2 separate regions of the Homo sapiens genome follow, and region 1 is linked to region 2. The links come from fine-mapping of genetic effects on gene expression. A gene starts in region 2. The other region holds a variant in brackets. All regions are shown on one strand. Distances are from middle to middle. Region 1 overlaps INCR1 (interferon stimulated noncoding RNA 1). Region 2 holds the start of PDCD1LG2 (programmed cell death 1 ligand 2).

Region 1 (4,399 bases), 23 kb before region 2:
ACTCCACTAGGCCCTAAGTTGGTAAAATCAACACTCCATTGGAGCCACAAAGATGACAACATAATGGTATGGGGAAGTCCTACCTACACAGGACATCTGGCAGGGTCCGGGCTTCATGTCTGACATATCGTCAAGAGTTACATTGGCAATGAGACTAGTTTTCGTAAATTTATTCAGTTTGATCATTCAGCTGATTCAAAGATCAAAAGATCCTTTAGGGCTGTGTTTTCTGACCTTTTTAAGGCTGTGGTACATGGATTTGTTAGGCTAACTGAGACAAATAAATGAGTTTGTCTCTTCACTATGCTGATAATACCTTGGCAAGTCATCAGTCAAGCTCTTTTTCTCACCCTTACCCCCAGATCTACACCCTGCTCCTACAATCTTATCTCTGTCTCCTTCTCCCTTCTAAAAGAAACCTGATGAAACAAAAAGAAGAAACCCAGAGATAATAATACACCCAAGATCATACTGATAGACCTACATGTGCCAAACATTGGTTGAGAAATAATGTCTTGTGATCCACAATAATCAGTACCAAAAATCCAAGTACTTCACGCGGTCTTAGGAAACAAATATGTGGGAAAGGCTGAGGCTTGGCTTATTTAGTTAGCTTTTGTTTTAGAACTACATAAACAGAGAGTGTAAATAGTAACCTGATTAAAAATACGGACTTTAGGGTTAGTTTATCTGGGTTTGAATTCTGGTTCTGCTGCTTCCTGTTTATCTGACCTTTGGTAAGTGACTTAACTTCTTTGTGTCTCTATTTCTTCATCTACGTATCTGACCCAGAGAGTTGTTAGGATAATTATGTGAATTAATATGTGCAAAAATTTAAAAATAGGGCCTATCACATTGTTAACAGCATATATGAGTTGGTAAAAGGATATATATATATGTTGCGTCTTAGGCATGGAGTAAAATTCATGTAAACAAAAAAACAGAGTGAATATTCACTTAGGCAGGCAGTCTGCTCCATGTAATCATTCAAGGATTCAGATAGACAACGGCTCTGCCATCTTCAACATGTGGTCTTCAAATTTTCCCTGGAGGTCTCCATACAGTTAAATAGACTAGAAGGGCATACAGAATCTCAGTGGGAGATTTTTATGCGCTAGATTTAGGAATGATGCGCATAATTTCCTTTCACATTCCATTAGTTAGAATTTAGTCACATGACCATAACCTAATCCCAAGGGAGACTGGAAAATGTAGGGTAGCTTCCCAGGAGGAAGAGGAGTATATAGATTTGATGGAAGACCTATCAGAATTGGTTATAACTGAGTATCTGGACAACACCATATTGGTACTGGTATCCTAGCAAGAAAAGTGTACATTGAATTGTAGTATCTATAGTGCCATTAGCCTTTCATGAAGTTATTTTAATAAAACAACTTTTTTGAAACTAGTTATTAAATACGGTCTAAAAATAATGATGAGGAACTCTTTATTTCATTACCTAGTGTGCTTTCTAAAGAACACTAGGAAAAATTTCCCTTTGACCTTAATACAAACACACAAACACAAAATAGTTGTGTTTCCCCGAGTGAAAAGTTGCTTAGCTTTGCCCCTGCTCCCCAAATCTTGGAAATATTATTAATTGTTTAACTGTCCAAGCTTGGCTTAGAAAGCTTAGAATCAATTTTATTCTTTCACTCAACTAATTTACTGAGCATTTACTACATGTCAAACTTCAAGCTAGACACTGAGGATTCAAGAGGGAACAAGACAGACATGGTTCTTGCCCTCATGGAATTCACATTCTAATAAGGGGTCAAGGAAGTGGATGTGTGGAAACATATAACGAATAAACAAATGACTATATAAATGCAGCAATACCAATCAATAAGGGACCAAGCTAAATAATTGCCAAATTGGGAACCAATTTTAAATGGGATGGCTGGGACAGGGGCTTCTTCAAAAAGGTTGAATTTAAACCGAGCCAGCCATACAAAAGGGCGTACCCCCAGCAGGAGGCACAATGTGCACAGGAGCTTTGATGAGAGATTGAGTTAAGGAGTTCAAGGGCTAGAAAGGAGGCCAGGGTGACTAGAGAGTGGAGAGCAGAGCAGGGAGGGGCACAAGATGAGACTGTGCATCACGCAGGCCCGTGACAGCCATGGTGAAGAGTCCAAATTCTGTTCTAAATGCGGTGGGAAGTGGTTGCAAGTTTTTGTTTGTTTGTTTTTGTTTTTGTTTTGAGACAGAGTCTCGCTCTGTCACCAGGCTGGAGTGTAGTGGTGCAATCTCGGCTCACTGCAACATCTGCCCCTCGAGTTCAAGCGATTCTCCTGCCTCAGCCTCCCAAGTGGCTGGCACTCCAGGTGCACTCCACCACGCCCAGCTAATTTTTGTATTTTTAGTAGAGATGGGGTTTCACCATGCTGGCCAGGATGGTTTCGATCTCTTGACCTTGTGATCCACCCGCCTCGGCCTCCCAAAGTGCTGGGATTACAGGCGTGAGCCACCGTGCCCGGTCAGTTGCAAGTTTTAAGTAGGGGGAAATGATTGATCCAGCTTGTGTTATGAGATCATTTGGGCTGCAGTGTGGAGGAAGAACTAAAAGGACATGGAAGCAGGAGGACAGCCAGGTGATGGGTGTCGTAAGCCTGG[G/A]AAATGTGATGGTAATACAAGCATGTCAAGCCCGCAGATCCTGACAGTAAGCATGCCTTCCTGACTTGTGCCCGGGGAGAGGAGGCGACAGTGATTCTGACCTCTTCTTATTTCCCTCCCTTTCTAGCGCCACTTTCCTGAGCTTTTTTACTGTATGTTATGTATACCGTATGCTGTATGCTGTATGCTGTATGCTGTATCTAACAGCCCTTGTAAACAGCCTTAAATCCTTTCTAAACATCCTGGATAGTCCTAGAATCCTAGAATATGGATTCTTTCTTGGTTTCAAAACTGATTTCATTATATTGCATGGAAAGAAGAAATGTCTTTATTGTAGAGTGTTGGTATTTCTGGGTAGGTTGATTCAAAGATTAAGTTGTGAGGGCAGTTGGGACTTTTAGAGAAAGTGGATCTAGAAAATCTAAATTGTTACTAAGAAATATTGATGAATGTAGGTCATGGAGCTCAGAAAGAAGTATCTCTTTGATATTTTTCCTAAACTATGTGAAAGGGAAGCAATGGGAAATTTCGTGAACGGAGTCAGGAAAGCCTCAAGTTGGGTGGCTAGGAAGGGTAGAGGAGTTGCTATTAGGGAACCGAGGAGTGAATGTGGAGATGGTGAAGTGAGACAGGAGGCTGCTTCCTCAAAAGTCAGGACAGTTATGAGAATGCTCTGGTTTGAATGTCAAGATGTTACTGGAAATGAATAACTACAAATACACGCATGTTCATGCACACACACATACACAAACACATGAAGCTATTGAAAAGAATATGCAGCAAATGTGTTTTGTAAGTGAGCTAGTATCTAGTTGAAGTACCATGATCATCTTTAAAATCTCTTGCTAGAAGAGGAATGTTGACTGCCCAGTGTGGGTGTGGATAGGGAATGAATATCCTCGCTGTGGTATCCATAATTGAAATGCACTGTGCCTCATCTCCAGACCAGCCCTTACAGCAGTGCCAATCTCCTTCTTGTCCACTGCACAATAGCTCGCTGACTCTGCCTACTCTTTGGTCAGTTTCCCGGATATCCTTGTCTCTTCATTCTTAGTACATCACATCATTACTCAGGCCTCTTGCCTGGGCCCCTGGCAGCTTTAGGTACCTCATTCAGCGCAACTGTTTTCCTGTTTTCTTGAGCAGTGAGGTCATAATTTCATGACCTTGGATACACATTGCGTGAAGTAAAATGTTTATTAAGTCAGATGAATTAATAACATTTTCAGGAAGTTCATAATTGATGGAGACAAATTACATATGTACCATACATCAACACACACACACACAGAATGTGCACACTCAGGAGAGATTAATAGTGTGTATGTTTATTAGATATAAAGCAGCTGTAGCCTATGAAGAAAGGACAGAAGAAACAGCGAGGTACAGGAACTAGAGTCGACAAAGAAGAAAAGCAAAGATGCCCACATACATCCTACTTTTAATGCAAAGCTTGTCTCTGCTGGATAACATCACAAATCCCCCAACTAAAATCACCAATTGTTCTGTCCCTAAAGATATCTTTCTAGTTCTCAATCCCAGGCCAGGTGGGGCTCTATTTAACTCTCTTTTATTTAATCCACTTTTGATCACTCTTAGGAAGTTTCACTTTACTCAACAAGCTCAAGATTGATCACCCTTGACTTTATCTGTTTATCTTAGGAGTGTTTGGTTGAAGACAGAACCACAGATGCCCATTATTACTAGTATTATCATAACAATAAAGAGGAGCAATAGTAAATAAAGGAAACCCAGAGCCAGATTATCGGGACTTAAATCTGTTTTC
Region 2 (4,399 bases):
TGCTGACAAGGTTATGGAGAAAAGGGAATGCTTATACACTATTGGTGGAGTGTAAATTAGTTCAACCATTATGGAAAGCAGTGTGGCAATTCCTCAAAGAGCTAAAAACAGAACTACCATTCAATCCAGCAATCCCATTACTGGGTATATACCCAAAGAAATGTAAATCATTCTATCACAAAGACACATGCACACACATGTTCATCATAGCACTATTCACAATAGCAAAGACATGGAATCAACCTAAATGCCCATCAACGACAGACTGGATAAAGAAAATGTGGTACATATACACCAAGGAATACTATAGAGCCGTAAAAAAGAGCATGTCCTTTGCGGGAACATGGATGGAGCTGGAAGTCATTATGCTTAGCAAATTAATGCAGGAACAGAAAACCAAATACCACATGTGTTCACATATAAGTGGGAGCTAAGTGATAAGAACACATGGACACAAAGAGGGGAACAACACAAACTGGAGCCTAGCTGAGGGTGGAGGCCCCAGGGAGGAGGGAGATGAGCAAAAAAAAAAAAAAAAAAAAAAAAAAAAAAAAAAAAAATGACTGGGTTCTAGGCTTAGTATCTAGGGGACAAAATAATCTGTATGACAAACCTCCATGACACGAGTTTACCTATGTAAAATAAAAGTTTAACAAAAAACTAAAAAAGTTACCTATGTAAAACAAAAGTTTAACAAAAAACTAAAAAAAGTTACCTCCACCCAGAAATGCCTTTATTAACACTTTGGTTTGTAACCCTCCATTATTTTCTCTAGACATATAGATTTATGAGGCAGGCTAATGTGCTGAGACACTAGCTTGAGTTTCATTTGGCCTTGCTGTGAATATACCTGGGCCTTCCTTTGCTTCAGGATGCCCTAAACTGTGGCAAAGCAGAGCTGAACTGCCCAAAGGAAAGTGTGAAGAGGAGAGGCAGGCCAAGCCTGGAGAAAGGCTACCCAAGAGAGAGGAAAGGAAACTGTGGTGAGTGCACCTCACTCCTAAAGAAGGACAGGAACTCTGGTAGGTGAGGTGTGTTTTCCATAGATACTAAAACTCAAAGCCACACAGGGGACATATGTCCATTCCTCAGCCAGTCACTGTGGCCAGGAACAGAGGGTCAGGTAAGAGAATGGCAACTCCTAAGGAAACCACATGCCTGGAGCCGTGGGTGTAGAAGCAGATCCCCAGAGGAAGCACGGGTCCCACAGACACAGTCCCAACTCTTGCCGTCTAGGCAGCCACTCCCATCTGTAGGTACTACACAGCTTCGTAGTACTTCTTAAAGTACTTCTTGTTCAAGCGATGGGACGAAAAGAGGATGCAGGACAAGGAGGAGGAAAGGAGATCCTTGCTTTTGTAGAAGAAACAAGGAGGCAGGGAAGGCTTAGAGGACAGGCAAGGAGAGATGTTTTCTTAAAAACATCCTCTGTCTGAGTGTTCAGCCCCACATCTCTGCTGGTCCTACCCCTATAAGCACAAGGAAAAGGGCGGGAGGCAGCAGGAGAAGGATTGATCATTCAGGCCTATATTCAAGTTTGCCTTTTCTTGCCATGTGGTTTTAATCTCACCAATCACAAGCCTGAAGGTATAGTGGGGCCACTGAGGTCCGAGTTCAAATTCAGCCATGCAACTAAGGAAACATTGTTTGATCTTGGTCCTGTTTTCTCATGTGTAAAATGGGTCTAACTCTAAACCACACATTGCACTGAGAATGAAATGAGGCACTATGAAATGAAGTGAGGTTAGTTGAATAATGTTCCCCCCAAATTCATGTCTACTGAGGACCTCAGAATGTGACTATATTTGGAAGTAGGGTCTACGCAGATGTAGTCTAAATGAGGTCATACTGCATTAGGGTGGGCACTAATCAAACGGATGGTATCCTCATAAGAGGAGAGGAATGTAGAGATACACACAGAAAAGAATGTCATTTGAAGATGGAGGCAGAGATTGGAGTGATACAACTATAAGTCAGGGAATGCCAAGGACTTGAGGTCATGTGTTACAGAAGCCCTAGGAAATGAGTCAATTTCCTGGCACAGCACTAAGACATGCTGGTATTCTTCATTCCATCCCTTTCCCCTATTCCTAAATGTGCTCCAGGGACAATGGGGAAGCTGGAGCACATATAAGAATAGGGGAAAGAGAGGGAATAAAAGGGTATTAAAAACTCTCAAGGTATGTTAAAAAAAAGACTCTCAACAAACCAGGTATTGAAGGAACATACCTCAAAATAATAAGAGCCATCTATGATGAACCCACAGCCAACATCACACTGAATAGGCAAAAGCTGGAAGGATGCCCCTTGAAAACCGGCACAAGACAAGGCTGCCTTCTCTCACCACTCCTATTCACCATACTATTGGAAGTCCTGGCCAGAGCAATCAGGCAAGAGAAAGAAAGAAAAGGCATCCAAGAAGGAAGAGAGGAAGTCAAACTACCCATGTTTGCAGATGACATAATTTTATATCTAGAAAATCCCACAGTCTCAGCCCAAAAGCTCCTTAAGCTGATAAACTTCAGAAAGTTTCAGGATCCCACATGAACATACAAAAATCACTAGTATTCCTAAACACCAACCATAGCTAAGCCAAGAGCCAAATCAGGAATGCAATCCCATTCACAGACAAACTGCTAAAAGCAAAACCAAAACTTTCCAAATAAGCCAGGCTTTCGTCAGTTCCTCAGAACTAGTTCTGGTTTGACTCACTCTCATGTTACGGCAAACCTTAAGCTGAATGAACAACTTTTCTTCTCTTGAATATATCTTAACGCCAAATTTTGAGTGCTTTTTTGTTACCCATCCTCATATGTCCCAGCTAGAAAGAATCCTGGGTTGGAGCTACTGCATGTTGATTGTTTTGTTTTTCCTTTTGGCTGTTCATTTTGGTGGCTACTATAAGGAAATCTAACACAAACAGCAACTGTTTTTTGTTGTTTACTTTTGCATCTTTACTTGTGGAGCTGTGGCAAGTCCTCATGTGAGTAACGAGTGGGTTGAGATACTCTCATACTATTATGTTGTGGACCATGATGAGGCTGCCAGGGTGGGGGAAGGGTGGCCTACCTTCTCTCCACACCATTTGAGGCAAGAGACATTCTGCCTCAGAAATTGTGCTGAGGGGCACAAATAAGCTAATGTCCTCCTGCCCCAGATTTCTCTCACTTGTTCCTATGCATATTGTTCTTGTTGCTCAGTTTTATAAGGTGAGATATTTTCTGCACCAAATATGTGCACTGTAAAATAATATAACTATTCTTAAGATTGTCTCTCAGCTTAGAGTTTTCGGAGGCTTAATGGTGAAGAACTTAAAAATCTGTTTTCCTATGACTGACATCTGTTTGTGATTATCCATTTAGCAGACGGTGATCCCTCCAGGCTGGCCTTTGTTTACAAGCTATGCCTAAGAGGCAGCTGTTGGTGGAGGGGGAACAAAAACAAAAAACCCAAAACTATTATCTTAATAACTTATAGAGGTAATCATTATTGAACAAAAGCATGATTTGGGGACTATGGAAAGGCTTATTCTTTCCATATAAAATGATCAGCGAAAAGGTAGAAAAATTAAACAGAACTGAAATAATTGCTATTGATTGCTCACCGCCTGGATGCACTGAGTAGAAGAGCAAAGGCAATGGGTTCATGTGGAGGGGATGGAGGTGGAGAGGCTAAGCCTGAGTGAGATTACCAACTAATCAGGACTTTTAACCCAAAAATACTATGGCTCTGAGGGGCAGGGAATGAGAGACCTAAATTGACAAAATGCAGAGTAAAAATATTCAGTGTGAGCAGTAATGAGACAGTTGTATCAGGGTCAAATACGGAGTTGGCCTGGATGTCCTCCAAGCTCCTTTCCAAGCCTAAGATTCTGTGAGTGGATGAACAATCCTGGTCCTGCTGCTCTTGCCACTGGAACCTGATCTATTTGCCTTCATTATTTGAGGTCTCCCCATCATCAGGCTCTTTGTTGTCTGCTGCTTCAGGGTGTCTTCTCCCCAGATTTCTCCTGTTGGTGAGCTTTTCCATTGAACTGGAGCTCCTCACAGGCAAGAAGCACACCTTTAAGGTTCTCTGAGTCCCAAGTTCCTAGTGCAGTACCTGGCAATACACATAGGTGCTTAGTGGGTGCTTGCCGAATTGTTGAATGGATTTATTTGATGAAATGTCAGGAGAATCACCAGAAATGAAATGTTCGTGTAATGGACAGGGGGAAGTTTGAGGTTGATTTGAAAAAGGAGATGGTAGAGACAGTATTATGGGTCATGCTTCAGAGTTTATTTGCTTTACAATACATTGGACAGCAACCAGTAGATTGTTGTGTGTCATTTTAATTCCACATGCTAATGTCCAAATATGTCATATGTCTTAATTGTTGCATACGTGGGTTACTCTGTAA

Evidence for each region. PIP is the estimated chance that this variant, and not a neighbour inherited with it, causes the effect. A credible set is the group of variants that fine-mapping cannot tell apart.
Region 1: its variant is the best candidate, but not a certain one, in a credible set for the expression of PDCD1LG2 in fibroblasts (GTEx, PIP 0.67).

What each region holds. Positions count from the first base shown.
Region 1 is chr9:5,485,178-5,489,576 of GRCh38, forward strand. All of the region lies in intron 2 of INCR1 (interferon stimulated noncoding RNA 1), which reads right to left. Among named protein-coding and RNA genes, the nearest start is that of PDCD1LG2, 23 kb to the right of the region's middle. The variant G/A (reference allele first, on the strand shown) is at 2,614.
Region 2 is chr9:5,507,821-5,512,219 of GRCh38, forward strand. It overlaps PDCD1LG2 (programmed cell death 1 ligand 2), which reads left to right and starts at 2,711. Exons shown (of 7, transcript NM_025239.4): 1 at 2,711-2,983. The region is part of intron 2 of INCR1 (interferon stimulated noncoding RNA 1); the gene reads right to left. RefSeq lists enhancers at 1,259-2,458, 2,400-2,479, 2,540-2,599, 2,760-2,809.